5 separate regions of the Homo sapiens genome follow, and all the other regions are linked to region 5. The links come from fine-mapping of genetic effects on gene expression. A gene starts in region 5. Each other region holds a variant in brackets. All regions are shown on one strand. Distances are from middle to middle.

Region 1 (6,137 bases), 140 kb after region 5:
TAAGTTGCACCGAGGGAAGTTTAACATCAAGTTTAGATAGCCGGAGACAGCTCTTCAGTTCCCATAAACTCATCGAATGTGATACTCTTTCCAGGAAAAAATCAGCTAGATTCAAGTCAGATAGTGGAAGTCTAGGAGATGCCAAGAATGAGAAAGAAGCACCTTCGTTAACTAAAGTGTTTGATGTTATGAAAAAAGGAAAGTCAACTGGGAGTTTACTGACACCCACCAGAGGCGAATCCGAAAAACAGGAACCCACATGGAAAACGAAAATAGCAGATCGGTTAAAACTGAGACCCAGAGCCCCTGCGGATGACATGTTTGGAGTAGGGAATCACAAAGTGAATGCCGAGACTGCTAAAAGGAAAAGCATCCGGCGCAGACATACACTAGGAGGGCACAGAGATGCTACCGAAATCAGCGTTTTGAATTTTTGGAAAGTGCATGAGCAGAGCGGGGAGAGAGAATCTGAACTTTCAGCTGTAAACCGGTTAAAACCAAAATGCTCAGCCCAGGACCTTTCCATCTCAGACTGGCTGGCCAGGGAACGCCTACGCACCAGTACCTCTGACCTTAGCAGAGGAGAAATCGGAGATCCCCAGACAGAGAACCCAAGCACACGAGAAATAGCCACGACCGACACACCTTTGTCTCTTCATTGCAACACAGGCAGTTCTTCCAGCACCTTGGCTTCAACAAACAGGCCCCTTCTTTCCATACCACCACAGTCACCTGACCAAATAAACGGAGAAAGCTTCCAGAACGTGAGCAAAAATGCTAGTTCTGCAGCGAATGCCCAACCTCATAAACTGTCTGAAACCCCAGGCAGTAAAGCAGAGTTTCATCCCTGTCTTTAAACTGGGGGTATGTCCACTCTAGCAAGTAAAAAAACTACTGTTACACGTTCCAGTAACTCTGTCAATATTTTCTTGTATCAGAATTGTTATTATGCAGCCTTCATTTGGGCTGGTTTCATCATTTTGCACTGTGAAATAGCTTTACAGTGCATTACTACAGCCAGAAGAACATATATATATATATATATATTTAAAAATATATCGGATAGTTGTATACAAATGAGCAAGGTATTTGTTGCAACTTACTACATAGCATATACCCAAAATCACTGAAGAAAATCGCTGGCATCAGTGTGCAGCAAATTTGTTCTTTTGGTTTCATCACTAACAAAAGTGCCTCATCATAAAAATACAGTTGGTTTTTAGGGTGCCATATTGTTAAAATTAGATAACTTACTTACATTGAATAAACGAATGCGTTTTATTGGTAACAGATATCATTACATTTACCAGTTTTAACACAGGTGGATACAGAACTTCCATTCTTTAGTCATTCCAGGTGGATCTGAGTTTTATATTCAAACTTTTAATACAGTTTTTGAGTTTTGTGTGACTTGAATTTTTAATCTTTCTGTAAAATACGTAACTTAAATGAACATATTAAATGTGTATCTTTTCTTCAGATACCAGATTTGATATAATGTTGTAACATAGGTGTGTAGATAGTGGATCCTGGATGGAACTGGCTTCTTTATCGAGAAGAATATAATTCTGCATGAGGACTTAATGAATCCAAACCTGTGTCATGCCTGTGTGCATACCCAATTAAACACTGGAAATAAAAATTGTTTTGGTGAATTTTGCATGGCTTGAAACTTATTCTGATATATTTTTAGATGTCATCCATTTATAACTACCTTACATGATTAATTGGTCCTGACTTTAAAAAGGTGCCTACTATATTTATACATTCCATCTTCTCCTCTTTCTTGCTGTGGTGGGTAGAGACTCTTTCTTACAGATGCTTACATTAGCCTAACCTCACTTGTTGACTGATAGTGTTTAACTCTTCTAGGTAAAGTAATGTATGTTATGTTAATGTTCTTTTCGTGAGTGAAACGAACATGAGTTTGGAGTCAGTCCAGCTCTACCTAGGTATGTGAACTTGAACACATTATTTAACTTCTCTGAATTTGTTTTCTCATATAAACAGTTAGTTACAGTAACACTACCTATTATAAGGGTGATTAGATTTAAATGAGATACTGTTCCACTTACAGTGCCTGCCACACACTAGTTTCAAAATAGAACAAAGCTATTGTTGGAAGTAATGGTTACAAAAAAATCTCAGACTGTTAAGGCTGAGAAGGACCTTAACAGTCATCAAATCCAGAGATTGTCAACTGTCAAACATGATACTTTCTTAAAAGTATTTTGAGATTTCCCCTTTACCATCATGAAATTCATAATATATCTAAATATAACTTTACATTGAGTATGTTATGATATAGACCATAATCCCCTATTATAAAAGAAAAATGAAAGTGATTTATAATAAAATAAATTTTTCAATATGCAAATGCTCAGGTACAACTACATCATGAAAATAATATAATGGAATAGTCAGATGTTTGCTCCAGTATATAGAGTCACTAACAATGGTAACTACACATGGAGATGGTACCATGAATAGTTTGCTGCTGGCGATGAGATTTTACTAGGAGTCATGCTCTGCTTTTAAAGTTTTGAACAAAACAAAGCACACACTTCCCTTAGTTTACATGAGGGGGAGTTCTTGCAGTGTATTATTAAAAGTGTCAAAAACACTTTTTACTTATATGTTTTAAAAGTTACTTTCAAGGCTCAAATAGTTTTATATTATTTGTTCTTGCTCCTCATTTTTTCTATATTTTTTTTTCTTTTGAGAGAGAGTCTCACTATCAGTCTATTGCCCAGGCTGGAGTACAGTGGTACGATCATCACAGTTCACTGCAGAGCTGCGACTGACAGGCACATGCCACCATGCCCAGCTAACTTTTTTTTTTTTGTATTTTTTGTAGAGATGGGCTTTCTCCATGTTGCCCAGGCTCATCTCAAACTCCGAGGCTCAA[AG/G]CGATCCGCCCGCCTTGGCCTCCCAAAGTACTGGGATTACCGGCATGAGTCACCACGCCCAACCTTTCTTTGGCTATAATTTGCTCGACTTTTTAATTTCTTGAGACGATTGCTTGGAAAATTGATTTTTAGTTGTTTTCTAATATCTTCATTTTAAGGCTATATGCTGTATTTTTATTATCATTCATTTCAAAATGCTTTCTAGTTTGCATTCTGATTTTTTTCTTTAACCTGTGAGTTATTTAGCAATGTATTGCTTAATTTCCAAACATTTGAAAACTTTCTGGTTATGTTGACTCCAGCATAATGTTACATTATCATTAAACATACATTTGAAATTGAGACATCCATTTTGACCCCACTATATGGTCAATTTTGAGAAATAACACGTCTACTTGAAAAGAATATGTTTCTATCCTTACTGGATGCTTTTTATTTGGTGTATTAGGTCAAATTTAATCATGTTTTACAGATCTAGATCATTATAGATTTCTTCCCTGGCTCTTACCAGTTCCTGAGAAGTGATAGAATATTATGATATGAATGTAGATTTGCATATCTTTTATGTCAATCTTTTATTTTGAAGTTAGTTTACTAAGTGAACATAAATTTAGAATTGTTACGTCTTTGTGGTAGATTGACCCTTCTATTATGAAATGTCCTTCATAATGAGTCTCAACCAAAGCTTTATTACCTTATTTTATATATTAATGTAGCTATATTAGTTACTTTTGGTTAGTATTTGCATAATACATCATTTCCATCCGTATTAATCCTTTTGTATTTTTCTCATAACAGCATATAGATTTTCTTTAAACATAGTCTCTTAGTTGGAATATGTAACCCAGTTACATTTAATATGATTATTTATGTGTTTGGATTCACATCTACAGCTGAACCATTCATTTTCTCCATGACCAGGGCATTTTACCTACCCTTTTCTCTTGTTTCTTGCCTCTTTTGGATTAATATTTTTATTATACCATTTCCTCCTATTAGCATATTTATATGTTCTTTTCATGGACATCCTTGACTTAACTGAATATAATTTAAATTGGATTCTACTTTGTGTATTTTTTTGTAGAGACCAGGTTTCATCATGTTGCCCAGGCTGGTCTCAAATGCCTGGGCTCAAGCGATTTGCCTGTCTTGGTCTCCCAAAGTGCTGCGATTACAGGTGTGAGCCACTGCACCGACCTGGCACATTGCAGCTTTACTAGGTTTTGTCAAATTAATCTCCAGAGTTCGCCGGCAGTGTACGAGGATTCTCATCTCTTCACTTCCTCAAGGACAGTAGGGTACTGTCAGTGTTTAAAAATTTTGTTTTTAAAACAAAGTTGATGGGTGTGAGATCTCTCACTGGTTTACATTTCCTGCATTACTAGGGCAGAGACCACGTTTCAGATGTTCATTGGCTATTCTGGTTTCCAACTAAGTTTTTTTTTTTTTTTTTTTTTTTTTTTTTTTTTTTTTGGTGACGACACAGTCTCGCTCTGTCACCAGGCTGGAGTGAAGTGGCGTGATCTCAGCTCACTGCAACCTCCACCTCCCAGATTCAAGCAATTCTCCTGCCTCAGTCTTCCGCGTAACTGAGATTACAGCCACGCGCCATCACACCTGGCTAATTTTTTGTATTTTTAGTAGAGACGGGGTTTCACCATGTTGGACAGGCTGGTCTTGAACTCCTGAGCTCAGGGAGTCCTCCCGCCTCAGCCTCCCAACGTGCTGGGATTACAGGCATGAGCCATTGCGTCCAGCTATGTGAACCTTTGATCATATTTCTGTTGTTTTTTTCCTCACAGATCTTTACAAGATTTGGATACTAATCTTAATTTCAAATCCCCTCTTTCAGTCTATAGTTTTTAAACTTTGTTTCAGGTGTTTCTTTGCATAGTTTTAAATTTTATTTATCCCCATTTGTTGGCTTTTATATGTGTATTTTGAGAACCGCTAAAAAATACTTCCCTATCCACAGACATATGGTATATATTTGTTTTCTAGTAGGCTTAAAGTTCGTTTTCATGTGCTGGAGTTCATTTTGTGACTGATATTAGGTAGAATGGCAGGATTATCTTTTCCTCTGGTCGTTTTTGATGAGCTTTTTGCTACAAAATGTCAGATCCCTGGATTCGTATGCAAGACAATCAAATGTCCCTACTTGCCATTTCACTGTAGCAAGGTTAAACCATACGACACCAGCAGGGCTGCTTTAGCTGACTGATTTGTGCAACAGAGAACAGTAGGAGCCAATTGTAACAGGCATCTCAGCTGGCTGCCCAGGAAGGAAGGAAGGAGGGGAGTTGTACTAGGGGAAGAGCATCTGTTACACAGACCTCCCAGCATCCCTGCTATGAAAGCTAAATACCACGAGAGCTGGAACAGCATCTTAGGACAGTAGAAGGAAATACAAAGCAGAAGGAAGCTTAGTTTTGTCCAGCCAAGGAGAAGGTTTAGACAGTATAATATATGCTCAAACCTTCCAATGAAGCAGTTACAAAAGGAAAATATTGGGAATTGGACATAAAGATTTATCGATTGTCAAATTTGTTGACCATGGGGTCCTGAAGATGCTTTCTTACAGACACAAAACAAAACATGTCTTGAAACCTTTACTTTCTGAGAGTAGAATGAAGATGGCAGTTGTAAAAATCTACCAACAGAACAAAGCAAAAAACTAGGTGCTCATGTATGACATTGTCTGAATTTCACCTAGTCAGCATTAGATTTTAAGGTATGGTTAAACTTCCCCAGAAGGTGGAATCACTGTACCTCACTTTTTGTTACTTTTTTGTTTTTTTGAGACAGGGTCTCACTCTGTCACCCAAGCTAGAGCACAGTGGTACCATCTCTGCCCACTCAGGCTTTCTCATCTGACCACACAACACAGAAAGTGATTTGAGTAGCTATTCTCAAAATTCTTCCAAGGATGGATGGTACCTATCCAGTACGTTAGATCCGTAGAAAAAAAGTCAATTCATTACACATAACAATGTCTTAGGATCATCACATACATGTTTAAGCAAAAACATTTCATGGCACATTCTTCACTAAGGCAATAAGGAAGGCAGTAGATGTAATACAGTAGTTAGCTGGGATTCTGAGAGTTGGCAGGCTAACTTACTTCAGATCCTAGCTCTGGCACTTAGAGACAGTAGTGTCTATCAAGGATGTAATGAGTATGTCAGGGCTAATAAAGTGCCTGATACATAACTACTGCCTTATATGTCA
Region 2 (6,137 bases), 95 kb after region 5:
AATATAACATGTGTCCTTGTGGGCTGGGTGCAGTGGCTCATGCCTGTAATCCCAGCATTTTAGGAGGCTGAGGTGGGCCGATCACTTGAGCCTAGGAGTTTGATACCAGCCTGGGCAACATGGTGAAACCCTGTCTCTACAAAAAATTAGCTGGGCGTGCTGGTGTGTGTCTGTTGTCCCAGATACTTGGGAGGCTGAGGTGGGAGGATCACCTGAGTCCAGGAGGTCAGTCAAGTGAGGTTAATCAAGTGAACCTTGATAGAGCCACTGCACTCTAGCCTGAGTGTCAGAGTGAGACCCTGTCTCAAAACAAAAACAACAAACAAACAGATGTGTCCTTGCACAGGAGTTTATCTAAACATCAGTTTCTACCAACTCTAAATATTGAAATGAAAGTACCTACATATTTTACTAGTTAAATTTATTTGAACCTGTGGTTCTCATGGGTTTAGTATAATCTGAGCATTTATGAAACTAAACATAATGATTCAAATCTGTCAAGAAGAGACACCAGTAGATTATTTTGTTTTTTGTTGTTGATTGTTTCTTAATCTCTTGACTGTATTGGGGGAAAATATGTCTGATATTGTTAGATTAGCTGTTGAAGCATTTGGTGGAGATAGTAGCACTGCCTTTGCCATAACTTTTATTTTATTTTATTTTATTATTTCTTTTTTGAGAGGGAGTTTCACTCTTGTTGCCCAGGCTGGAATGCAATGGCATGATCTCAGCTCACTGCAATGTCCGCCTCCCAGGTTCAAGCAATTCTCCTGCCTCAGCCTCCTGAGAAGCTGGGATTACAGGCACCTGCCACCACGTCCAGCTAATTTTTGTATTTTTAGTGGAGACGAGTTTTCAACATGTTGGCCAGGCTGGTCTCGAACTCCTGACCTCAAGTGATCCACCCACCTTGGCCTGGGAACGTAAGCCACTTCGCCCGGCACCTTTGCCATATCTGTATGTACCTCCAGATCACAGGATTCAGTTTTGTTTACCCCTTTGAACTTTCTAAACTTAGGGAAATTTCTCTATCATTTTCAACAGGAAATTTACAGAACCAAAATAAAATTAGACTTTGAGCTGTCCCTGTAAAGGCACTAAAAGTAAATCATAGGGAAAAAAGCAAATAGTTGAAATGTTATATAGTTATTAAAAATGAGTCAGCTCAGTAGTTGTGACAGTAAAGCGATTTCCTTCACTTCTGAGGCCAGGAGGGAATATTGCAAAATTAAGATGTTTAATATTACTTGGCTGGGCACAGTGGCTCACGCCTGTAATCCCAGCACTTTGGGAGGCTGAAGTGGGCAGGTCCCTTGAGGTCAGGAATTCCAGATCAGCATGGCCAATGTGGTGAGCCCTCCTCTCTACTAAAAATAGAAAAATTAGCTGGGTATGGTGGCACATGCCCTGTAGTCCCAGCTACTTGGGAAGCTGAGGCATGAGAATGGCTTAGACCCAGGAGGCAGAGGTTGCAGTGAGCCAAGATTGCGCCACTGCACTCCAGCCGGGGTGACAGTGTGAGACTCAGTCTAAAAAAAAAATTACTTAAAATATTAAGTTTGAGGGTTCTTTGATGTTAATGAATTTTAACTTGAACAGAATATATGACAACAATCTATAATTTGTTTTGTGACTTGAATAAAACAATAAATAATTGTATACTGATATTGTTAAGAGTTTGTCCTGGGACTATTTAATATAAGCAACATACTTTATATTTCTAAATTAGAAACATGTTATAAAGAAAACTTTACTGATTATGAATAGCACAAACATGGCAGGGGTCCGTCCCTCTTTTGTATATAGTTAACTTACGTATACAAAGGTGACTTCTTTTCATTCTAATGATTTGATTTTAAAAATTAAGATATAAGAAAACCAGAATAAACTCTTAAACAATTTAAAAAATACTTCTGAGTTAACTGTTTTTCCATTAAGTCTTTTTTTATACACTTCTACCTCTCCTAAAATAGTATATAATTCAATTTCAGTGATACAACATTGGAACTTAGTGTTATGCCAAAAGATGAAGACATTCTCCAAGTGGTAAGTTTTATTTATTCATATATGAGTTGTTTTACAGTCATGAATGTTCGGAAAATATTTTTGAGATGGAAGTATTAAAGATGGAATTTAAAAAAAATTCTAGAATTTAAAAACCCTCTGGTTCCTTTTACAGAATCTGGAATTCTCTACATTTTACAAAAATACCATTGCCAAGTTTTTGCAATTAAGTGACATGGAAATGTTATGTTGATTCTACAGTGAACTCTTAATGCTCTCATTTAGAATGAGATTCCTAAAGAGTTTGTCCTAGTGTTGCCTTCTAGTTCATCCTTGGACCAAAGGAAGAGTTTAGAGTGCAAGTGCATATCCCCAGGAATTAGAATCTTTTTTTTTTTCCTTCTCACTATGTACAGAGAAAAAAAAAAAATAGAATCTTATTTTTGTAATACGAGGACAAACTTTATGATTGCCATTTTCTAATTTTCCAATAAATATTACGTTTGTAAATTCACCAAGCAGTATTGTTAGTAGTATCAATTCGTTCCTAAAATGTTCACAATGAACGGAGTCTACAACTTAAGGGGAAAATATGTTATGGTCTTGAAATGAAACTTGAAAACTTTAGTATTTAGTCTAAAATATTTTTCTGATTTTTATAAAGAAAGAAATTGAATAGAATACTTAACTCCTTTACTAAGCTTAAATACTGCTGATGATAAAAATATAAATTTCATCTGGGCACGGTGGCTCACGCCTGTAATCCCAGCACTTTGGGAGGCCGAGGCGGGCGGATCATGAGGTCAGGAGTTCGAGACTAGCCTGGCCAATGTGGTGAAACCCTATCTCTACCCTATCTCTACTAAATACAAAAATTAGCTGGGCATTGTGGTGGGCACCTGTAATCCCAGCTACTTGGGAGGCTGAGACAGGAGAATCGCTTGAAACCGGAAGGCAGAGGTTGCAGTGAGCCAAGATCGCGCCACTGCACTCCAGCCTGGGTGAAACAGCAAAACTTCATCTCAAAAAAAAAAAAAAAAAAAAAAAAAAAAAAATATATATATATATATATATATATATATATAGTGTGTGTGTGTATATATATGTATGTATATATATGTGTATATATGTGTATATATGTATGTATATATATGTGTATATATGTATGTATATATGTGTATATATATGTATGTGTATATATGTACATATATGTGTGTATAT[G/ATG]TATATATATGTATATATGTGTATATATGTGTGTATATATATATGCACACACACACACACACATATTTCATTCAAGAAAATAACATTTTCCTTCAATTGATTTTGCAGTTCTGTAGAATAAAATAGAAAAACTCTTTAAGTAACATACTTACAACTAACAGATCTAGGAAATGGCAGTGGCCGCTGAAGTATTTATTTTTAATTCTTTTTGGTAAACAATTGGGTTTTTTTCTTATTACCTATAGCTAAATTCAAGAAAAGCAGGGAGCTGATGGACTCTTTGTCGTGGTAATGGAAATGGTATAGTAATGTTCTTCATTTGTAAGGCAGTAGTTTGAACTTAGCTCATCAAAGGCCATAAATAATCTGTAAACATGTTTTATAAAAAAAAAAATCACTAAAGCCGATCCTAAAGAGTCATTCACTGACATGTAAACTATAATTAAGTGAAACTCATGGGGATTAACCCCATGTTTTCAAGGCATGTAGATTTTACTTAGGAATGGCTTAGTACCGATAACAATTACCCTTCTGAAGTACACAGTTCAGTTGGAGTTGGGAGGCTCAGGAAGGAAGATACAGTTTGCTGCAGTAATTTTCCTAGACATGCAAAAGTGGTTGTAGAGTTCCTACCCTGACAATTCAGCATAGTGATCATGTAGCAGACATAACCACAGACACCAATGGCTATGAAAATAACTAGACTAGAAATAAATAGGGAATTCTTCTCTAGTGCTCTTCTTATACAGAAGATGGTGTATATGGTAGCGAAGGATTTACCTGGCTTCCTCCTTGCAATCTGAAGGCTTGAAGACAGAATCAGCTTATGAAACTGAACTGTTTTCCGATCTTCAGTAGACCCTTTCCTTGCCAAGGTGAAGGTACTGGTTGGATGGCTCTTGGAACAGTGCTCATTTCACAGAATGGCTGGCATGGAAGCAATTAAATGCAGAATCGCCATGATATCCTGCAGTGTGATTGATGAAGAGCAGCAAACCACTTCATGTAATGGAAGGAGTAATTTTGTAATGATATGATTAATGGAAAAAGAGGTCACTTAAAGAAAAATTAGTTTTGTTCTGTTACTCATTCATATTCTAGAATAGTCTGTCTTGTTAAATTTTATTTAAGTAAATCTAAAGTAAAAGTAAAATATAAAGTATCCCAGAGACAGAGAAAAACCAGTTCAGTAAATAACATGAGCATGCAGATCTTCAAGGCTCAGCAGTAAAGAGTTCTGGTATACTGTAACATAAAATTTATTTTTAAAACATGGTATTTGAATTACTTTAATCATTAAGAAATAAAAGTACATGCCTTTAATCATAAAAGAAAACTCTACTTTTTAACCTTAATTCACATTTGAATGTAGTGTAATTCATTAAGAAATCAAAGGAATATATAATTTTCTGTCTCTAACATATATTCCAGAGTTAAAATGTTCTTTAATGTACTTCAGAAGTACTTATGCAGATCTTAAATCTGTTATTCAAAATATATGCTTTTAAAGATGTATTTGTTCCCATGAGGTTGAATATTTATTGTAAAGAAAAGCAATGGGTAATGTGAACATTTTTACAGCCACTGTAAAAATCATTTACCCATGGAAACACTTGTAGGTTGTATATGTTTGCCTGGGCAACAGGATTGGGTAGTGCATGGAGGTTTTTTTTCTTTTCCTGAAGTGATATACAGACCAAATTATTTTAGAAGTGCTCTGCTCACCTTTGAGAGGTGGCCTAGAAAATTTAATTTGGCTTAAAATTTGACTCGTGTAAGGACAGGTATATGATTATAGGTTTCATAATTCATGGATGACAATGATAGAATGTTTAAAACCATGAAGTAAAATTAAGAATAATTCATTTATGTTTTTAAACTAGTGCTAGTAATAGGAGTCCTGTGCTTGGCAGCCTCATTTTTTAAACCAGCATATATTTTCTAGGTTAACAATATAAATAGTATTACATTCATTTTAATCATTTTAACAGTATTTTGTTGTAATATTTTAGACTCTGGTATCTTAGACAGGTTCGTGTTTATTGCAAAATAAAAAGGTTTTTTATTGTATTTCCAAAAACCAAAATGATTTTGTTTCCCCATTAAATGTTATCTATGCATGAGTGAAATAGCCACACCAGTCTGGTCACCTAAACAATGATGCTGACTCTCTTAGTCTATTTGGGCTGCTGTAACAAAATACCTTAGACTGGATGGCCTATAAACAAAGAAATTTATTTCTCATATTCTGGAGGCTGGGAAGCCCAAGGTCAAGGCTCAGGTAGATTTGGTGTCTCGTGAGGGCCCATTTTCTCATAGATAGTACCTTTTCACTGTGTCTTCACTTGGTGGAAGAGCTGACGCAGCTCTCTGTGGCTTCTTTTATAAGGACACTAATTTCATACATGAGGTCTACCCTCATGACCTAATCATCTCCCAGAGGCCCCATCTCCTAACTCATTCACACTGGTGATTAAGTGTCAACATACGAATTAGGGGAGGGGAACACACAAACATTCAGACCGTAGCACTGACCAAAGAGAATACTTCCCTGAGTGAGATAGTGGTAGGAGAACTAGATCGGGGCATACTTCTTGGTTCATCACCCAGGATACTTTGTTAAGCATTTGGCTCCATTGACTCAAAGATTAAATTTTAAGTTAATCGGTTTTTATAACTCTGGAGATTCTTGGGTATAACTAATATTTGGCCAGGACATTTTAAACCTACTTTATGCTGTTCTATGTTAAACACAGCAAAGTTAAACAGCATGTCTGGTATAATAAGGAAGAAAGCAAATGGTATAAGGATTTGAACTCGGGCGGGTCTGAGATGAAAGCCTGTACTCTAAACCACAGTCCTATACTGCTGTTGAGTGGAGATGAACTGTTTAGGTGGCTTACCATAAGTCA
Region 3 (6,137 bases), 200 kb before region 5:
GAGGAAGCTGGAAACTAGGAAGGGTCAGACCCACAAGAAAGTGTATGTGTTATTAGTATTAATCACAACAGATGCCTGAAGATTTCAGTTGTATTTCACGTTGTCTGCATTTCCTCCGTTTATCATTTGAAAGCTTGCTGGTCCCATGAAACTTAAGCATGCTATGTATATATACAAAAAATATGCTTGTATTAATCTGTTCTCATGCTGCTAATAAATACATAACTGAAACTGGGTAATTTATAAAGGAAAGAGGTTTATTTATTTTTTTAATTATATTTTAAGTTCTAGGGTACATGTGCACAATGTGCAGGTTTGTTACATAGGTATACATGTGCCATGTTGGTTTGCTGCACCCATTGACTCGACATTTACATTAGTTATTTCTCCTAATGCTATCCCTCCGCCAGCCCCCGACACCCCCTCCACAGGCCTCAATGTGTGATGTTCCCCGCCCTGTGTCCATGTGTTCTCATTGTTCAACTCCCACCTATGAGTGAGAACATGCAGTGTTTGGTTTTCTGTCCTTGTGATAGTTTGCTAAAAATGATGGTTTCCAGCCTCATCCATGTCCCTGCAAAGGACATGAACTCATCCTTTTTTATGGCTGCATAGTATTCCATAGTGTATATGTGCCACATTTTCTTAATCCAGTCTATCATTGATGGACATTTGAGTTGGTTCCAAGTCTTTGCTATTGTGAAGAGTGCCACAATAAACATATGTGTGCATGTGTCTTTATAGTAGCATGATTTATAATCCTTTGGGTATATACCCAGTAATGGGATCCCTGGGTCAAAGGTATTTCTAGTTCTAGATCCTTGAGGAATCACCACACTGTCTTCCACAATAGTTGAACTAATTTACACTCCCACCAACAATGTAAAAGTGTTCCTATTTCTCCATATCCTCTCCAGCATCTGTTGTTTCCTGACTTTTTAATGATAGCCATTCTAACTGGAGTGAGATGTTATCTCATTGTGGTTTTGATTTGCATTTCTCTGATGACCAGTGATGATGAGCATTTTTTTTTCATGTGTCTGTTGGCTGCATAAATGTCTTCTTTTGAGAAGTGTCTGTTCATGTCTTTTGCCCACTTTTTGATGGGGTTGTTTTTTCTTGTAAATTTGTTTAAGTTCTTTGTAGATTCTGGATATTAGCCCTTTGTCAGATGGGTAGATTGCAAAATTTTTCTCCCATTCTGTAGGTTGTCTGTTCACTCTGATGATAGTTTCTTTTGCTGTGCAGAAGCTCTTTAGTTTAATTAGATCCCATTTGTCTATTTTGGCTTTTGTTGCTGTTAGTCTGATGGGCTTCCCTTTGTGGGTAACCCAACCTTTCTCTCTGGCTGCCCTTAACATTTTTTCCTTCATTTCAACCTTGATGAATCTGACAATTATGTGTCTTGGGGTTGCTCTTCTCGAGGAGTATCTTTGTGGTGTTCTCTGTATTTCCTGAATTTGAATGTTGGCCTGCCTTGCTAGGTTGGGGAAGTTCTCCTGGGTAATATCCTGAAGAGTGTTTTCTAACTTGGTTTCATTCTCCCCATCACTTTCAGGTACACCAATCAAACATAGATTTGGTCTTTTCACATAGTCCTATATTTCTTGGAGACTGTGTTCGTTTCTTTTCACTCTTTTTTCTCTAATCTTGTCTTCTCACTTTATTTCATTAATTTGATCTTCAATCACTGATATCGTTTCTTCTACTTGATCGAATCAGCTATTGAAGCTTGTGCATGCGTCACGAAGTTCTCGTACTGTGGTTTTCAGCTCCATCAGGTCATTTAAGTTCTTCTCTACACTGTTTATTCTAGTTAGCCATTTATCTAACCTTTTTTCAAGGTTTTTAGCTTCCTTGCGATGAGTTAGAACATGTTCCTTTAGCTCAGAGAAGTTTGTTATTACCGACCTTCTGAAACCTACTTCTGTCAACTCCTCAAACTCATTCTCTGTCCAGTTTTGTTCCATTGCTGGTGAGGAGCTGCGATCCTTTGGAGGAGAAGAAGAACTCTGGTTTTTGGAATTTTCAGCTTTTCTGCTCTGGTTTCTCCCCGTCTTTGTGGTTTTATCTACCTTTGGTCTTTGATGTTGGTGACCTACAGATGGGGTTTTGGTGTGGATGTCCTTTTTGTTGATGTTGTTGCTATTCCTTTCTGTTTGCTAGTTTTCCTTCTAACAGGCCCCTCAGCTGCGGGTCTGTTTAGTTTGCTGGAGGTCCACTCCAGACCCCGTTTACCTGGGTATCACCAGCGGAGGCTGCAGAACAGCAAATATTGCTGCCTGATCCTTCCTCTGGAAGCTTCATTCCAGAAGGGCACCCACCTGTATGAGGTGTCTGTCGGCCCCTTTTGGGAGTGTCTCCCAGTCAGGCTAAATGGGGGTCAGGGACCCAATTGAGGAGGCAGTCTGTCCGTTCTCAGAGCTCGAATGCTGTGCTGGGAGAACCACTGCTCTCTTCAGAGCTATCAGACGGGGATGTTTAAGTCTGCAGAAGTTGACTGCTGCCTTTTGTTCAGCTATACCCTGCCCACAGAGGTGGAGTCTAGAGAGGCGGTAGGCCTTGCTGAGCTGTGGTGGGCTCTGCCCAGTTTGAGCTTCCCAGCCACTTTGTTTACATACTGAAGCCTCAGCAATGGTGGACGACCCTCCCACTGCCCAGCTACAGCATCACAGGTTGATTTCCGACTGCTGTGCTAGCAGTGAGCAAGGCTCCATGGGCATGGGACTGCTGAGCCAGGCACAGACAGGATGGAATCTCTTTGTCTGCCAGTTGCTAAGACTGTGGGAAAAGTGCAGTATTTGGACAGAAGTGTACGGTTCCTCCAGGTACAGTCTGTCACAGCTTCCCTTGGCTAGGAAAGGGAAATCACCCAACTCCTTGTGCTTCCAGGTGAGGCAATGCCCCACCCCACTTCGGCTTGCCCCCTATGGGCCGCACCCACTGTCCAACCCGTCCCAATAAGATGAACCAGCTACCTCAGTTGGAAATGCAGAAATCACCCATCTTCTGCATCAATCATGCTGGGAGCTGCAGACTGGAGCTGTTCCTATTCAGCCATCTTGGAAGCGACCCAGGAAAGAGGTTTAATGGACTCACAGTTCCATATGGCTGGGGAGGCCTCACAATCATGGCAGAAGGCAAATTAGGGGCAAAATCATATCTTACATGGTGGCAGGCAAGAGGGCATATGCAGGGGAACTCTCCTTTATAAAACCATCAGATCTCATGAGAC[T/C]TATTCACTATCATGAGAACAGCATGGGAAAACCCCACCCCTGTGATTCAATTACTTCCCACAGGGTCCCTCCCATGACACATGGAGATTATTACAATTCAAGGTGAGACTTGTGTAAGCGCACAGAGCCAAACCATATCAATGCGGTAATCAGTTTAACTGATATATACCTGATCTTTTCCAAAAAGGATCTAATGATGTATTTTATTAATTATGCCCAGATAATTTCTCATTTTCTGCAGGAAAATAATTGCAGGCAGCAAAATATTAACAATTATCCTTATTTTATGTTAGGTTATTTTTATCAACATTTTGTAACTGATATAGAATGTAAAATTTAGCATCAAGACCAGGAAAATCTTTTTGAGATTACATATTCCATTTGTATTTTATAAAACACATGAACTTTAAAGTCTAGGAAAGTTACCAGGAAATAATTTGGATTTGGTGGGAAAAAGCAACACAGTTGGATATATAATAAAATGGTTTGGGGAAAATATTTATGGAAAAATAATGCCTTTGACAATTGTTTATGATGCTCATTGTACTATAATAAAGTTTGAGTTTAATGGTTTTATTGTCGTTTTAACCCATAGTGTATATTCCTTTCTTGCATGAGTTTGCCATTATTAAACACAGCATTATTGTTAATCACTCAGGTAATTCAACATGCTTACAATCTGTAGCTTTCAAGGACAAGAATTATTTAATTTTCTACTTATTAATTTGGGATTCATTTGGAGGAGGACAGTTTTGACATTTTTTTGTTTGCCTAGCTTTTTTTTTTTTTTTTTCCTAGAGAACAGAAATGAACTCAAACAGACATTGACAAATAGGAGAATAATGTCATTAAAAACAGGATGACTCTTGGTGAGGAAAAGGGCACAACAGTACGTCAAGGGCCCCCACAGCCCACGCCACAGAGAGGAATGACTAGGCAGGAGTGGAAAGGAAAAGGCCAGCAGTTGGTGATGAGTCAGCAGTACTTTTGCTAAAAATGCTAATCTAATACAGCAGTGGGAAGTGTTGGTTAGCATGTGATCATCGAGGCCTGGAATGACTCCTTCCTCTCTGCAGCTCTCAGGAGTCCCTGTTGAAGGACCGGGATGGGGGCTTTGGTGCCCTATAGACCTCTGTGTGTTGTTTTGGGGTGTGGATCCTCCTCTAATTAGGAAAGATAGCTAGAAGGCAGGCTCAGAAGTCTGCCCCAACTCACACTTCCAAAATTCACATTGGCGTGTGTAAGAGATCTGAGAAATGAAAATGTGTGATATTCTCCCTCATCTTCATATTAAGATAATTTCTTAGGACAAAAATGATTTTTAAACATACCCCTTACTCCAGCGATATCTGAGCCCTGATCACTCAGGAAGTGATAATGACACCTTTGTTTTTTGTTTTTTTGTTTTTTTTTTAATCACTTGTAACCGCTGTGTTGTAGGCAGGGAAATACTTAACCATGAAAGTGACATATTCTTGTTTTATTCCTATACTTAAAGCAAAAGCTACTTACTTTCAGTGTAGGTCAATTTAGATCTGCAAAACAGAATACCATTTTAGATGCTTTGAGGCAGTGTTCCTGTAACAGAATTGTTAGTAATTTTAGAAGATTAGTGAAATATTTTATTTTGAAAACCATTATGGAATTCCATGTTTGTTTCTTTTAATGGATAAATTTAAATATATATCAAATGGATAGATTATTGTAGACTTTTTCAGGGATAGTTATTTTTCCATCAGCAGTACTGTTAGACTACTCTATGCAGAATACATCTACTAGAATGACTTATTTCCTTTTTTGAAAAAAAAATTGAATTTTATTTTAAGTTCCAGGATACATGTGCAGGACGTGCAGGTTTGTTACATAGGTAAATGTGTGCCATGGTGATTTGCTGCATCTATCAACCCATCACCTAGGTATTAAGCCCCACATGTGTTAGCTATTTATCCTGATGCTGTCGCCGCATCTTCCATCCCCAACAGGACCTAGTGTGTGTTGTTCCCCTCCTTGTGTCCATGTGTTCTCATTGTTCAGCTCCCACTTGTAAATGAGAACATGTGGTGCTTGGTTTTCTGTTCCTGCATTAGTTTGCTGACTATAATGGCTTCAAGCTCCACCTATGTTCCTGCAAAGGACATGATCTCCTTCCTTTTGATGGCTGCATAGTATTCCATGGTATATATATATATACACACACATATATATATACACACACACTCATATATATATACACATATATATATAACATTTTATTTATCCAGTCTATCATTGATGGGCATTTGGGTTGATTCCATGTCTTTGCTATTGTGAATAGTGCTTCAGTGAACATAAGTGTGCATGTATCTTTATAATAGAATGATTTATTATATTCCTTTGAGTATATACCCAGCCATGGGATTACTGGGTCAAATGGTATTTCTGATTCTAAGTCTCTGAGGGATTGCCGCACTGTCTTCCATAATGGTTGAACTAATTTACATTCCCACCAACAGGGTAAAAGCTTTCCTATTTCTCCATAGCCTCACCAGCATCTATCGTTTCTTGACTTTTTGATAATCACCATTCTGACTGGCATGAGATGGTATCTCATTGTGGTCTTGATTTGCATTTCTCTAATGATTTGTGATGTTGAGTTTTTTTTCATGTTTGTTGGCCACTTAAATGTCTTCTTTTGAGAAGTGTCTGTTCATGTCCTTTGCCCATTTTTAATGGTTTTTTTTTAATGTAAATTTGTTTAAGTCCCTTGTAGATTCTGGATATTAGCCCTTTGTCAGATGCATAGATTGCAAAAATTTTCTCCCATCTATAAGTTGTCTGTTCACTCTGACAATAGTTTCTTTTGCTGTGTGGAAGCTCTTCAGTTTAATTAGATCCCATTTGTCAATTTGTGCTTTTGTTGCA
Region 4 (6,137 bases), 450 kb after region 5:
ATTAGAAAATGCCCTACACCAAATATCTGCTCTGATTGGACTAAGATCCTACATTTTTATATTTGGGAATATTGCTCAACTTGAGAAAGGCAAGATGTCCCAATCCCTGCAACAGTAACTTGGACTTTTTTTTTTTTTTTGAGACAGAGTCTTGTTCTGTCGCCCAGGCTAGAACACAGTGGCACGATCTCGGCTCACTGCAACCTCCATCTCGTGTGCTCAGGCGATTCTCCAGCCTCAAGCCTCCCGAGTAGCTGTGATTACAGGCATGTGCCACCACACCCGGCTGATATTTGCATTTTTAGTAGAGACAGGGTTTCACTATGTTGGCCAGGCTGGTCTCGAACTCCTGACCTCAGGTGATCCACCCACCTTGGCCTCCCAAAGTGCTTGGATTACAGGCATGAGCCATGGCGTCCAGCCAATAACTTGGACTTCTAATTAAAGATGTGACGTGGGCCAGTTATGCATAGAGGTAAGCCAAGGGCCTCTTATGTGACACCCTCACTGGACTGGGACAGATTCTGCCATGTCATTTACCTTGAGTACTCCAAAAGGAAGAACATAAAAATAATAATGTAATGAAAGTAGCAAGGGTATGTTTAACTTCAAAGAAGATCATTAATACTTAGCCTGGACTGTCTGAGAATATGACTAGAGAAAAGGGAATGAAGGAAAGAGGAGTACTTAATCTATGCTTATTGTTCAAATGCTCTTCTCTGCTCACACTTTGCAAATGTTAATAAGAGTCTGATCTCTTGATAGTAACCATAGGGAAATTTATCAGCCTCTAAACATAATTTCTCCCTTTTCTCTATCCTGAGTCTCCAATGAGTTGGGCAAAATGCAGAGGCATCTCATTCATTCAGAAAATGCCATCTTTTCTCTCTCTCATATATGTAGTGTTGCTAAAATTAACTAAAAAATTAACTAGTTTTAATTTTCTTCTTCTTAAAGGCTTCTGTCCATAACTGTCCAAGGCGCAGAAGGGCACAGACTTTTACGCAATGAGAGTCCCCTGACATTCTGCTGTCTAAGACTTCATTCTCAGAGTGCAAGGACCAGAGAAAGAACTGGGGTGGATGCTATTCCACGTTTGCTCTTTTCATTAAGACTTTTCAAAGAAGACTTTATTCCAACATGCATTTAAAAGAAAAAGAAATGAAGAATTCTTCCTTCAGGCGAATAACTCATAAGGGGAAAAAAACCCTTGAATATGATTTATTTCACAGGGATCATTGAAGAGCACGTGAAAACCGATCTCTGTTGAAATTCCGAAATACTTGTTAATGCCACCTTGAAAGAAGTAAAGAATTTCGAAGTCAGTTATTAAATAAATCCATGACTATTTGAACAGCTATCTCAATTTGGCTGGAATGTGGCTAGAATTCGAGTTATGTACATTGAGTTTGAGTAGAATGTGGCTTTGACAATGAGTCAACCTTAGTATTTTCTTCCCAACAATGATGGAGCGGCTTGGTGAATGCAGAGCTCCCTAGAGTAGCTTTTAGAACTCGTACTCTCCTTTCAACAACAGATTGCTCAGTTGAGAAGTTTTAGAACTGAATGAAAACTCAGGCATCATTTAGTTATTTGTGCAACTTGAATATTTTTTCCAATAAGATAACCAAGGCCAAAAAAATTAAGTGGAAAAAATGTCACACATCGAGTTAGAAAGTAGAACTAATCTAGATTCAAGCACTCCTAGCTACTAGTCCAGAGTTCTTATTACTAACCTGGACCTGCAGTGAGCACCACTGACATCCCTAACTGAGTAGTGACTTCCCTAGTAATCTCCCTTATCTAATTTTACTGCATAAACACATTGCTATCTGTTACAGGAATGGGATCTTAATCATGTAGAGAGAAGGGAAAACAAGGCATGAGGAACCTTTGAACCTTATTGCTAGGCTTCAAGTAGAGAGATGTCAGGTTGTCTCCCGAGTCCACCCTTCCCACCCAATTTCCTACTCTCACGAGCATCCCATGGGCTTTGGTCTCTCTGTGCCTCTTGTAACCAACCTAAAATGGAGATGCATAAAAGTGGCCTTTTATGCCACTTTTAAGTGGGCTATCTTATCTTGTATAAGGCTAGGTCATACTTTTGAATAAAACAATTTTTATTTGAAGAGGCTGGGACCAAGAAATATATATAGCTAGAATGGGCTGCGTACAGGGGGAAAGTTTATTAAAAGGCCTGCGTGTGCACAGTTTCATTATTCTCACTCTTTTTTTTTTTTAAGACAGGGTCTCACTCTGTCACCCAGGCTGAAGTGCAGTGGCACAATCTCGACACACTGCAGCCTCAACCTCCCCAGGCTCAGGTGATCCTTCCACCTCAGCCTCTCCAGTACCTGGGACTACAAGTACATGCCACCACGCCTGGCTAATTATTATAATTTTTTGCAGAGATGGGGTTTTGCCACGTTGCCCACGCTGGTCTTGAACTCCTGGGTTCATGTGATCTACCCACCTCGGCCTCCCAAAGTGCTAGAATTACAGGTGTGAGCCACCGCACCATCCTATTCCTACTCTTCTTTCCTTTAGTAAAGAGTAAGTATAAACTAACAAATTGGTTATAGTCAGAACTGAAATTAGCACTTATGATGTGGAATCTCAATCAAGATTCAGATAGCATGTTGGTTATATTGTGAGGTTTTTTCAATATATATGACCATGAAATTTCACTCCTAGGGAGGTGATTACTAAGTTCAATGTTACTGAGTTTCTTACTCAAAAACTGTGTTGATATTTTTCCTTTCAGAATGACATATTTTATGTCAATCAAAATAGAAAATAAGTCCCAAATTGAATGGCACTTAGAAAAATAACTTTGATGCCAAATTGGAAAAGAAAGCTTCAAAAGTACTTTGAAAATGGAGCCAAACTACCAATTAAAGGAAAAATTATAGACAAATTAAGAATATGCTTTTTCCAATGACACTGAACCTCAATCATTTTCTCCATAATGACTTGAAAACCCTGTAATTCTCATAGAAATCTGGCAGTCTCACCCATTTCCCCTCAGCAGAATAAATAGTGAAGTATATGGTGTGCTTTGTAGATCAAAAAAATATTGCTGTATGATATAGG[T/C]GGGGGGACACATTCCACAGTTACTCCCAAATATCATCAAAAGAAAGAAATCTGGCTGGGTGCAGTGGCTCATGCCTATGATCCCATCACCTTGGGAGGCCAAGGCAGGTGGATTACTTGAGGTCAGGAGTTCGAGACCAGCCTGGGTAACATGGTGAAACCCCATAACTACTAAAAAAAATAAAACAAAAATTAGCTGGGTGTGGAGGCAGGCGCCCGTAATCTCAGTTACTTAGGCGGCTGAGGCAGGAGAATCTCTTGAACCTGGGAGGCAGAGGTTGCAGTGAGCTGAAATCGCACCACTGCACTCCAGCCTGGGCAACAGGGTGAAAAAAAGAAAGAAAGAAATCTAAGCTACTCTTCACAATGCAATAGCTTAATCGATTGCTGTTATTTTTCATGCTGGCTAATTTTCAAAAAGATGAAAATAAGAAAGATGGATGCATTCATGTGATTTAGTGACAGTGGAGTTTGTGCAAATAAATTGCTTTGATGATGATGGAGGGATGGGTTGTAAATATTTTATCTAACAGCCCAAGAGAATGGCATTATGGAAACCCAGTAAGTGGGGGAAGATGAGCCACCTATGACCAAGCTCATATGAGTGTCCCACAGCTGGATGAGACAGTGTTCAGTGACCAAACTGACTCTTGACATGAACCACAATCTTCAGTTTGAATCTAGAATAATTGTGCAGAACGTGAAAGGTATACTAAGAAAGATGATAAAAATCAATTATTCTGTTTTGAAAAAATCAAAGAATATATTAAGGATTTTCCATTTCTAACACCTTCCTTCTACAGTTAGGGAAACAGACCAGACTTGGGTGGACTGAGAACCAGAACTCGGCAATCTGTGTTCTAACGCTTACTGCCCACTCCTGTGGCAGGGGGCGATTCTTCCATACCTGTGTTGATTTGGGTGGTGTGGGCCTGCTGCAGATGATGGTAGTGGGAAGAGACTAGAGGCCTTCTCATAGTCTTTTCCAATCACAGCATTGGAAATTTAGCATTGTATATAGTACGGGGCCCCAATCTTTAGAAGTGTTGCCACTAGATGTCAATTTGAGTTCTTGACACTCTGCTACTCCTAAAAATGCCCCTTGATAAATATCTGCAGTGTTTGAACATTTCCTAGAACTTCTTGAGTTAACCAAACCTGTTAGATGATGAAGGGTTGCAAGAACAAAAACCAATGACTCACTGTCCCAGAACAACATTTCTTGAGGAGAAAAACCAACCCCACTCATTTTGCCTTCAGTGTGGTAAGCCCAGAGGGAATGGGTGCTTGGATTCAAGTATTAGCCTTCATGTTTCTGCCAAAGTGTAATTTGCTCTGTTTTTTGATGAATGTTTAAAGCAATCTTTTTGTTTTTTAAGTCAGGGAATCACTCTGTTGCCCAAGCTGGAGTACAGTGGCACGGTCATGGCTCACAGCAGCCTCAAACTCCAGGGCTCAAGCCATCCTTCCACCTCAGCCTCCCGAGTAGCTAGGACTACAAATGTGTGCCAACAGGCCGCCTCATATGTTTTACTTTTTTGTAGAGAAAGGATCTTGCTCTGTTGCCCAGGGTGGTCTCAAACTCCTGGCCTCCAGTGATCTTCTCACCTCGGTCTCCCAAACTGTTGAGATTACAAGTGTGAACCACTGCGCCAGGCCACAATCCTTTTTTTTTTTTTTTTTTTTTTTAATTATACTTTAACTTTTAGGGTACATGTGCACATTGTGCAGGTTAGTTACATATGTATACATGTGCCATGCTGGTGCGCTGCACCCACTAACTCGTCATCTAGCATTAGGTATATCTCCCAATGCTATCCTTCCCCCCTCCCCCCACCCCACCACAGTCCCCAGAGTGTGATATTCCCCTTCCTGTGTCCATGTGATCTCATTGTTCAATTCCCACCTATGAGTGAGAATATGCGGTGTTTGGTTTTTTGTCCTTGCGATAGTTTACTGAGAATGATGATTTCCAATTTCATCCATGTCCCTACAAAGGACATGAACTCATCATTTTTTATGGCTGCATAGTATTCCATGGTGTATATATGCCACATTTTCTTAATCCAGTCTATCATTGTTGGACATTTGGGTTGGTTCCAAGTCTTTGCTATTGTGAATAATGCCGCAATAAACATACGTGTGCATGTGTCTTTATAGCAGCATGATTTATAGTCCTTTGGGTATATACCCAGTAATGGGATGGCTGGGTCAAATGGTATTTCTAGTTCTAGATCCCTGAGGAATCTCCACGCTGACTTCCACAATGGTTGAACTAGTTTACAGTCCCACCAACAGTGTAAAAGTGTTCCTATTTCTCCACATCCTCTCCAGCACCTGTTGTTTCCTGACTTTTTAATGATTGCCATTCTAACTGGTGTGAGATGATACCTCATAGTGGTTTTGATTTGCATTTCTCTGATGGCCAGTGATGATGAGCATTTTTTCATGTGTTTTTTGGCTGCATAAATGTCTTCTTTTGAGAAGTGTCTGTTCATGTCCTTTGCCCACTTTTTGATGGGGTTGTTTGTTTTTTAAAATGGACATATATTGGCAGGAGATTAGCAAGTCAATTAACAGGCAGGGAGAAAATATAGTGAAGTTTTACACCATTCACCCACCTAATTTAAAAAGAATTTCAAATATAACAGGTTGTTGACATATTGTGCATGAAAACTACTAGTTCGCCTAGTTTTCATGAAAAGTCAATATAGGCGACCTGACCTTTCTAGCCAAATGAACTAGAGAGTAATGACTTGCTCTGATTCCTTTGCCATTCACAGACAGCTTTGTGTGTGTTTTTTAAAATAGTGCCTGCCCGCGTAGCTTACTGTTAGTGTACAGATGATGAACTAACTGCTGGAGACAGGAGCTGCAGCGCAGGGAAACAAAGTTAAAGGGCCAGTTACAACTGCCAATTACAGGGTCATCAGAAGGCACATTATCTCTTTAATTAGGTGTAAGATAATGGGAAATGAAATTTGATTTATGAAAATTTAACCCACACCCAAATTTCAATAGTCCATCTATGGAGTACTCTTAGG
Region 5 (6,137 bases):
CTTAAGTGATCCGCCCGCCTTGGCCTCCCAAAGTGCTGGGATTACAGACATGAGCCATCATGCCCAGCCCATAATATTTTGATTGAAATAATGTTTTTTACGTTTTAAAAGTGTCTTCTGTTGCCCAGGCTGGAGTGCGCTGGTGTGATCAAGACTCACTGCAGCTTTGACCTCCTGGGCTCAAGCGATCCTCACACCTTAGCTTTCCAAGTAGCTGGGACCACAGGCATTGGCCACCACACCTGGCTAATTAAAAAAAAATTTTTTTATAGATATAGGGCCCCGTTATGTTGCCCAGGCTTGTTGAACTCATGGGCTCAAGTGGTCCTCCTGCCTGGGCCTGCCAAAGTGCTGAGATTACAGGCATAAGCCACCGCACCTGGCCTTAAAATTTCTTCACATCTATTATCTCATTTGATTCTCTTTAACAGTCCAGCAAGACAGGGAGGATGCTGTTACAACTCAGAGGTCCTGTAGAAGCCCAGGACACAGGTTTTTCAAATCTTAGCTGTGTGCCTTTGCACTTCTCCGTACAGATAGCCTAATACACTTAAGATACCTAAGATAGTAACTTATCATAACAGTTCTTAAAAACATTCCCAAATTTTAGAACATCACAATTATATTTGTCCCAGGAGTAGAGTTAAATTGGCACTCAAAGACCACAATAATTCACACATAGTAAGTTAAGTGTTAGCTGTTATTATTAAAAACCCATATTAAGAGGTAGTACAGTGATTTATTTATTTATTTATTTATTTATTATTTTTTGAGACACAGTCTGGCTCTGTTGCCCTAGCTAGAGTGCCACACTTGGACAGGGCTCACTGCAGCCTTGAACTGCTGGGCTCAAGCGATCCTCCTGCCTCACAGCCTCCTTTGTAGCTGGGACTACAGGCACATGCCACCACGCCCAGCTAACTTTTTGTTTGTACAGACGGGTCTCCCTATGTTGTCCACGCTGGTCTCAAACTCCTGGACTCAAGCGATCCTCCCACCTCAGCCTCCCAAAGTGCTGGGATTACAGGCATAAGCCACTGGGCCCAGCCTAGTATAGTGTTGTGAATAAAAGAATGGACTCTGGAGCCAGATCCCCTGGGCTTGAATCCTTGCTTCACCACCCACCTATCTCAATATGTTGTGTGTAAAGCTTTTAGAGGAGTACCTAGCAGGAGGTATTGAATTTGATAGCTCTAGTACTTAGACACATAAGTCATAATTTTCCCTAAGTTACGTGGTAAATGATGGAGTTGGATTGTAATCTTGATCCTTACATCTTATTACCTCTTATAGAAATATTGCCTCTCTAGGTTATGTTATTTTTCCATAATTCCTAGAATGTGTTTTCCTTCCTTTTCCTTCTCCTTTCATGGCCCACATTTTACTCTCCTTTATCAAACTGAAAATTTCACAATCAACATTTAAAAAATTTCTAGTGCAAAAATTTTAACCCAAAAGTCCTCAGCTGTTAGGTACGCCGTTCATGCCATGCATGCACATTTGCATGTGCAAGGAGTTGTTTTGTGCTGTAAGTTGTTTTTCCTTTCTGGACATATTCTATAAGCCCACAAGCGGTGAGCTACTTGAACCCTGAATTTCTATTCACTTCTTGTTAATTTACTCAATTGTATCTAGCACTGGATACTGCTACAGCCACTGGGCTATTTAGTAAATTACCATCTGACTGAAATACAGTCCTTGTATTTTATTCTATTTTTCTTTTCTTGATTATTAGCTGACTTGTTTGGTGACAGGCTGTCAAGAACACGCAAATTTCATGGCCATATAAAAATGATCTCGTCAACGTCTTCCCTCGAATTGAAGCGGAGGATTTAGTTGTAGATTTGGTTTGGCACCTTCCACTTTAAGGAAGATGTAAAAACTAAGGCGCAGGTACTCCAGCTGCAGGGAGTGTTTTTTGTCCCCGCTCCCCTGTCCCCCATAAAGAAACAGGACCTCAGGTGGTGGGCGGGCGGGGAAGGAGAAGGGATGTTTCTAAGTCTACAGGGGAGAGTGTAGAAAGAAAGAAGGAAAAGGTAAGAGGACTCCACAGTTTCTAGGTTTTGTTCTTCTTTTTTTCCCTCTGGACAGCGGTGGCAGCTGATCAGACACAATAGCTGGCAGTCCCCGGCCGCAGTGAGGATAAAAATGACCCTCAACAGCACCAGCAGGAGCACCGAGAAGGGGAGGGGAGTGTGTATGGGAGGGGGCGAGGATGAGGGTGACAAGGTGACAAACGCTGCCTCTGACTGCGAGCAACTCCCCCTCCAGCCCCGCGAGGCTCGGAGCCGGGGAGCCACCTCCCCGGAGCGGGGCGGGGTGGGAAGGAGAGGCCGAGGGGGCGGTGGCCTTCACCCGGGGGCGGGGAAGAGGGCGGAGGGAAGCCTGATTTACCAGCCCCTGATTGGTTCGCGTTCTCTCGTCGCGTCTCCCGATTGGGTAATTTGCAGCGGGAGATGTTGTGAGGCACGGCGGGGCGGAGCGAGCTGCCGGGGTCTGTGACAAGGCCCGGGAATTGGGTGGGGAGGGTGGCGGTTGTGCCGCGGCTCCGGAGCCGCTGTGACCTGGAGTGTGGCGGACAGAGAAGCGCAGCCGCCTCTCCACAGTTCCGCTAGCCGCGCCAAATTCGCTCAGCCGCTCTGCAGAATTTATAAAAGGGAAAGAACTGAATGAGCAACGCTTGGCTAACTTCCCCCTTCCCACCACAGGAAGAGATTTTTGCTGTGAGGCGTGAGGGGACACTCCCTTATCTGGAAGTCCCACGTCTCGTCGCAGCTTCATTGCCTTCCCGCTGCAAAAAAGGGGTGGGGGCACAATTTGCCAAGCCCTGTCCCCCAATCTAGGACCTTTGATCCCTGGAGTCTGCAGATGTCGCTGTTATAGGCTTGTCCCCCTCTCCACCCCAGACGTCTACCACCAGGTCTCCTTTCCCGGGAGCAAGCCCATCCCTGGACGCTGCCGTTCAGCGCTTGGGAGACTGCAGGGGCGGGGAGCGTTGTGTGCCTGGTTTTGGGGTGCTGGGGGGCGAGGGCTTGTAGGTCCCGCGACCCACGGGGAGGGGGCAGGCGAGCACCCCGCTCCGGCCTCCGGCTAATCCCCCTTCTCCAGCGTCGGTTCCCCGGTCCCGTGTTATTCAAGACAGAAAATATTCAGCCCCAGAGCCTCCCCTGGGGAGGGGAGGGGAAGGAGGTGGAGTGGGAGGAGGTGGATCCAGGGAGGAAGAAGCGAGAAATCCGCCCCCGGGAAACAGCTCCGCGCGGCCACGGAGCGAGGCGCTTCTGTCACTTGGCGTTCGCGGGCGCCGGAGCTGGGCCCCGGCCCGGCCCGGCGAGGCGAGGGGAGAGTCCGGCGGCCGCCGCCCCGCCCCACGCCCTCCTGCGGCGGCCGAGAGCCCGGGGCCGGCCGGGGCAGGTCGCGGCGGTGCCTGGGAGCGGCCGGCCGGGGGCGGCGGCCTCGGAGCGCGGCGGCGGCGGCGGCGGCGGCGGCGGGCAGCGCGGGATCGTCCGGCTGCGGGGTCCGGCTCACGCCGGGCGGGCGGGCGGGGCGCGCTGTCCCGGAGCCGGCCAGCCCCGTGCGGATCCACTCGTCCCGCTTCCTCTGGTGCGTGTCTGGTTTCTTTTCCGTCTCAGCCGAGAGGGCGCTGCGCTCGCGGGCCGTGGAGTGCCCGGCTTGCCGCGGGCTCTCTCCCTTCCCGCCACAGGCCACCCGGCCGGGCGCTGGCTCGGGGCCGGAGGGAGCCCGCGGCGGGCGCCCGGCGGGGGCGGAGGGGCCGCGCCCGCGTGTGCGGAGCAAGGGCGGGCGGCGGGGCGGAGGGAAGGGCACAAAGGCCGGCGGTGGGCGCTGGGGTCCGGCCGGCCAGCCTTGGAGGAGGGGCGCCTGGGGCCGCTCATGAATATTAACCGAGCCTGCGGCCTAGCGCGTCCCGGCCGGGCCCGGCGCCCGGCCAGCGTCTCCGCTTCAGCTCGCCGCCGCGCTTCGGCCGCCGGGCCCGAGCGGGCGGGAAGGGTAAGGCCCCCGGTTTTGTCTCGCCCCGGGGCTCCTAGCACCTTTGAGAAAGTCCATATTGGGGCCGCTCTCCTCGGGAGCTCGAGGTCCCCGACCCGCCTCAGGAAGGGGCGGGGGAATCGTGGGGAGGTGGGTGGTGGTTTGCTTTTTCTCGTTTTTTCCCCCTAGGTGGCCACAGGGGAAGGGAAGCCGTGTCGAGTGGTAGTTGGGGGAAAAGCCGCGACTTCAGAGTTGCTCGGGTGTAGCTCCAGAATCATGCCCTGGAGCGGGAGCGGCGCCGGCGTCCCACCCGCGGCCGCGCACGCCTCCCCGGCCGTCCCCACCCAGCCCCGCCGCGGGCCAAGGAAAACAGCCGCCTCCTCGGGGACGCCGGCCGGGGCGGAGGGGCGGAGGGGCGGCGCCCGAGTCACCCGGAGACGCCGCCGAGCCCACGCCGGCCCCAGCCAGGCTGGCTTTGTGCTTGCGTTTTTGGGGGGCGGAGGGGAGCGAAGAGGGGGCTTGGAAAGTGTGATCCCATTTCAGCCTCGTGGGGGAGAAAACTTCACCGAAGTGTCCCTGTCTGGGTGATGCAGAAAACAACATGCACAGCCCTCTGCTCTACCCAGGAAAGACATGAATTAAAATGCACTTGAATGGGGAACATTTTTTCTTGAAGGCTGCATAACAGCCAGGTGTGTTTGACGCAACCGCTGGGCAGTTTCGAGATTTCTCTTTTTTAAACACCCCCTCGAATTTATAGGCTTTTTGTTTGTTTACGTTAAAATTTTTTTTTGTTTGTTTTGCTCGGGAGGAAACGCGAACTTGGTGTGGACATGTGGGCAAGACAGTGATAGGCGCCTGGAGAAAGTTCATGACCTTTAACTTCTCGTTTTCCTAGGATCTCTCTAGGAGCTGACACTCGAACCTTCACGACCCATTCGGATTTTTCCAGGACTCAGGAGTGGCACTGGGAAGAAGGGGACCGCTTTCTGCAATTGGCCTCGACACTGGCTGCCAAGAAGACCTGTCGCCTTTGTTTTTAAGTCTCCAGAAATGGAAGAAGAAGGCGAAGTCAGTTGAAGTCACGAGAAATCAGCGAGGCATTTGAAGGCGCTTCCTGAAAACCTTTATTCCCTGGCACGTTGTCTGTTTCAACAGCCCTGCCCCTCCTCGGAGCCTGCTTGTGGAATTCTTCCCCTTCGGGTGTGTGGTGGCATTCCCCGCCACGTCCAATGTGGACTCCAAAGGATTTGTCCCTTCTTTGTCATTTGAAATGAAATGATGGCCACGCGTCGGACTGGTCTGTCTGAGGGAGATGGTGACAAGCTCAAGGCCTGCGAGGTAAGCGCGGAGCCAGCGTTCCTGGCCGGCAGGGCGGTGGCCTGTGTCTTGAGCGTCCTGCAAGTTGGGGGTTACCGGCCACGGGGCCTCACTAGGGGCTTCCCGGGGCTTTGAGCCTGTTGGCGGGAGCGCCCCAGCTTAACCAGTAGCGAGGAGAAGCCTGGCCCACGTCTGTTTCCAGGGACTCCCGTGTTTCTTTTGCAAGAACATGTCCCGCAGTTTGGAATGTCCTCATCTTGGTCACCCCTTCTCAGAGCCAGGAATTCTCCCGTCTCTGTGGCTGTGGATGCTACAAGCCTGAGAATGGGCACCTCAGTATCCGTTTTCCTTCAGTCCCCTTCCGAGATATTTGGAGTTGAGCTGGTTGGGGGTGGCTTTCAGCATTTGTGTCTGCTCCAAGGTGCAGAGAGGGCAGCTAGTATGCTTGTTGCACCTGGAACTTAGTCTTTCTTTGGTACTGACGAGGGGAGTCTGGCTGCTGTTGCTGCAGATCTCTGCTTTAGGTAGAAAAAGAAGTGTTTTTCCGTGAATAGTTTAAGCACAGCCTTGGAAAACGACCTTACAGAGTCGTAATTCCAACTCCCGGAAAAATCTCCTGCCTTTACTGTTCTCTTATTTATACCCTCCCTTTCACTACTCTGAAGTTCTGTGAGCTGCTCTGGGGTGTCAGGTGGGTTGCGTTGCTGGTTAGGGTAGCATCTAGCATCTAACATCTTCCCAAGGGCCCAGAGATTTTACTCCAGACTTCCTGAAAATTTTTGAGCAGGCAGGACAGAAATCATAGAAAATACATTGATTTATGACACGCATAT

Direction of the effects. Positions count from the first base shown, and alleles are read on the strand shown. Sizes are in standard deviations (SD) of each study's normalised expression. Not every link is listed here.
For the expression in follicular helper T cells of the gene that starts at base 3,275 in region 5, ATG is the high allele of the variant in region 2 and G is the other (large effect, 1.0 SD a copy in Schmiedel 2018).
As copies of T replace C in region 3, the expression in monocytes after LPS of the gene that starts at base 3,275 in region 5 goes up (large effect, 1.2 SD a copy in Quach 2016).

The links.
Region 1: its variant is fine-mapped to the expression of ARHGAP21 in whole blood (TOPMed, PIP above 0.99).
Region 2: its variant is fine-mapped to the expression of ARHGAP21 in follicular helper T cells (Schmiedel 2018, PIP 0.94).
Region 3: its variant is fine-mapped to the expression of ARHGAP21 in monocytes after LPS (Quach 2016, PIP 0.95). The same link has a PIP of 0.9 or more in monocytes, monocytes after Pam3CSK4 and monocytes after R848.
Region 4: its variant is fine-mapped to the expression of ARHGAP21 in regulatory T cells (Bossini-Castillo 2019, PIP 0.95).

What each region holds. Positions count from the first base shown.
Region 1 is chr10:24,579,132-24,585,268 of GRCh38, reverse strand. It overlaps ARHGAP21 (Rho GTPase activating protein 21), which reads left to right. Exons shown (of 26, transcript NM_020824.4): 26 at 1-1,655. The coding sequence ends at 857. Among named protein-coding and RNA genes, the nearest start is that of ARHGAP21, 140 kb to the left of the region's middle. RefSeq lists an enhancer at 4,919-5,420. The variant AG/G (reference allele first, on the strand shown) is at 2,909.
Region 2 is chr10:24,625,905-24,632,041 of GRCh38, reverse strand. ARHGAP21 (Rho GTPase activating protein 21) reads left to right here. Exons shown (of 26, transcript NM_020824.4): 7 at 1,992-2,046. Among named protein-coding and RNA genes, the nearest start is that of ARHGAP21, 95 kb to the left of the region's middle. The variant G/ATG (reference allele first, on the strand shown) is at 3,226.
Region 3 is chr10:24,919,607-24,925,743 of GRCh38, reverse strand. All of the region lies in intron 3 of PRTFDC1 (phosphoribosyl transferase domain containing 1), which reads left to right. Among named protein-coding and RNA genes, the nearest start is that of PRTFDC1, 30 kb to the left of the region's middle. RefSeq lists a cis regulatory region at 4,207-4,217 and an enhancer at 4,140-4,284. The variant T/C (reference allele first, on the strand shown) is at 3,236.
Region 4 is chr10:24,267,856-24,273,992 of GRCh38, reverse strand. All of the region lies in intron 2 of KIAA1217, which reads right to left. Among named protein-coding and RNA genes, the nearest start is that of MIR603, 4.8 kb to the left of the region's middle. The variant T/C (reference allele first, on the strand shown) is at 3,094.
Region 5 is chr10:24,721,025-24,727,161 of GRCh38, reverse strand. ARHGAP21 (Rho GTPase activating protein 21) reads left to right here and starts at 3,275. Exons shown (of 26, transcript NM_020824.4): 1 at 3,275-3,600; 2 at 4,883-5,325. The coding sequence starts at 5,263. RefSeq lists silencers at 2,156-2,535, 3,286-3,475, 3,506-3,575, 3,666-3,745, 3,766-4,125 and 1 more and an enhancer at 2,832-3,742.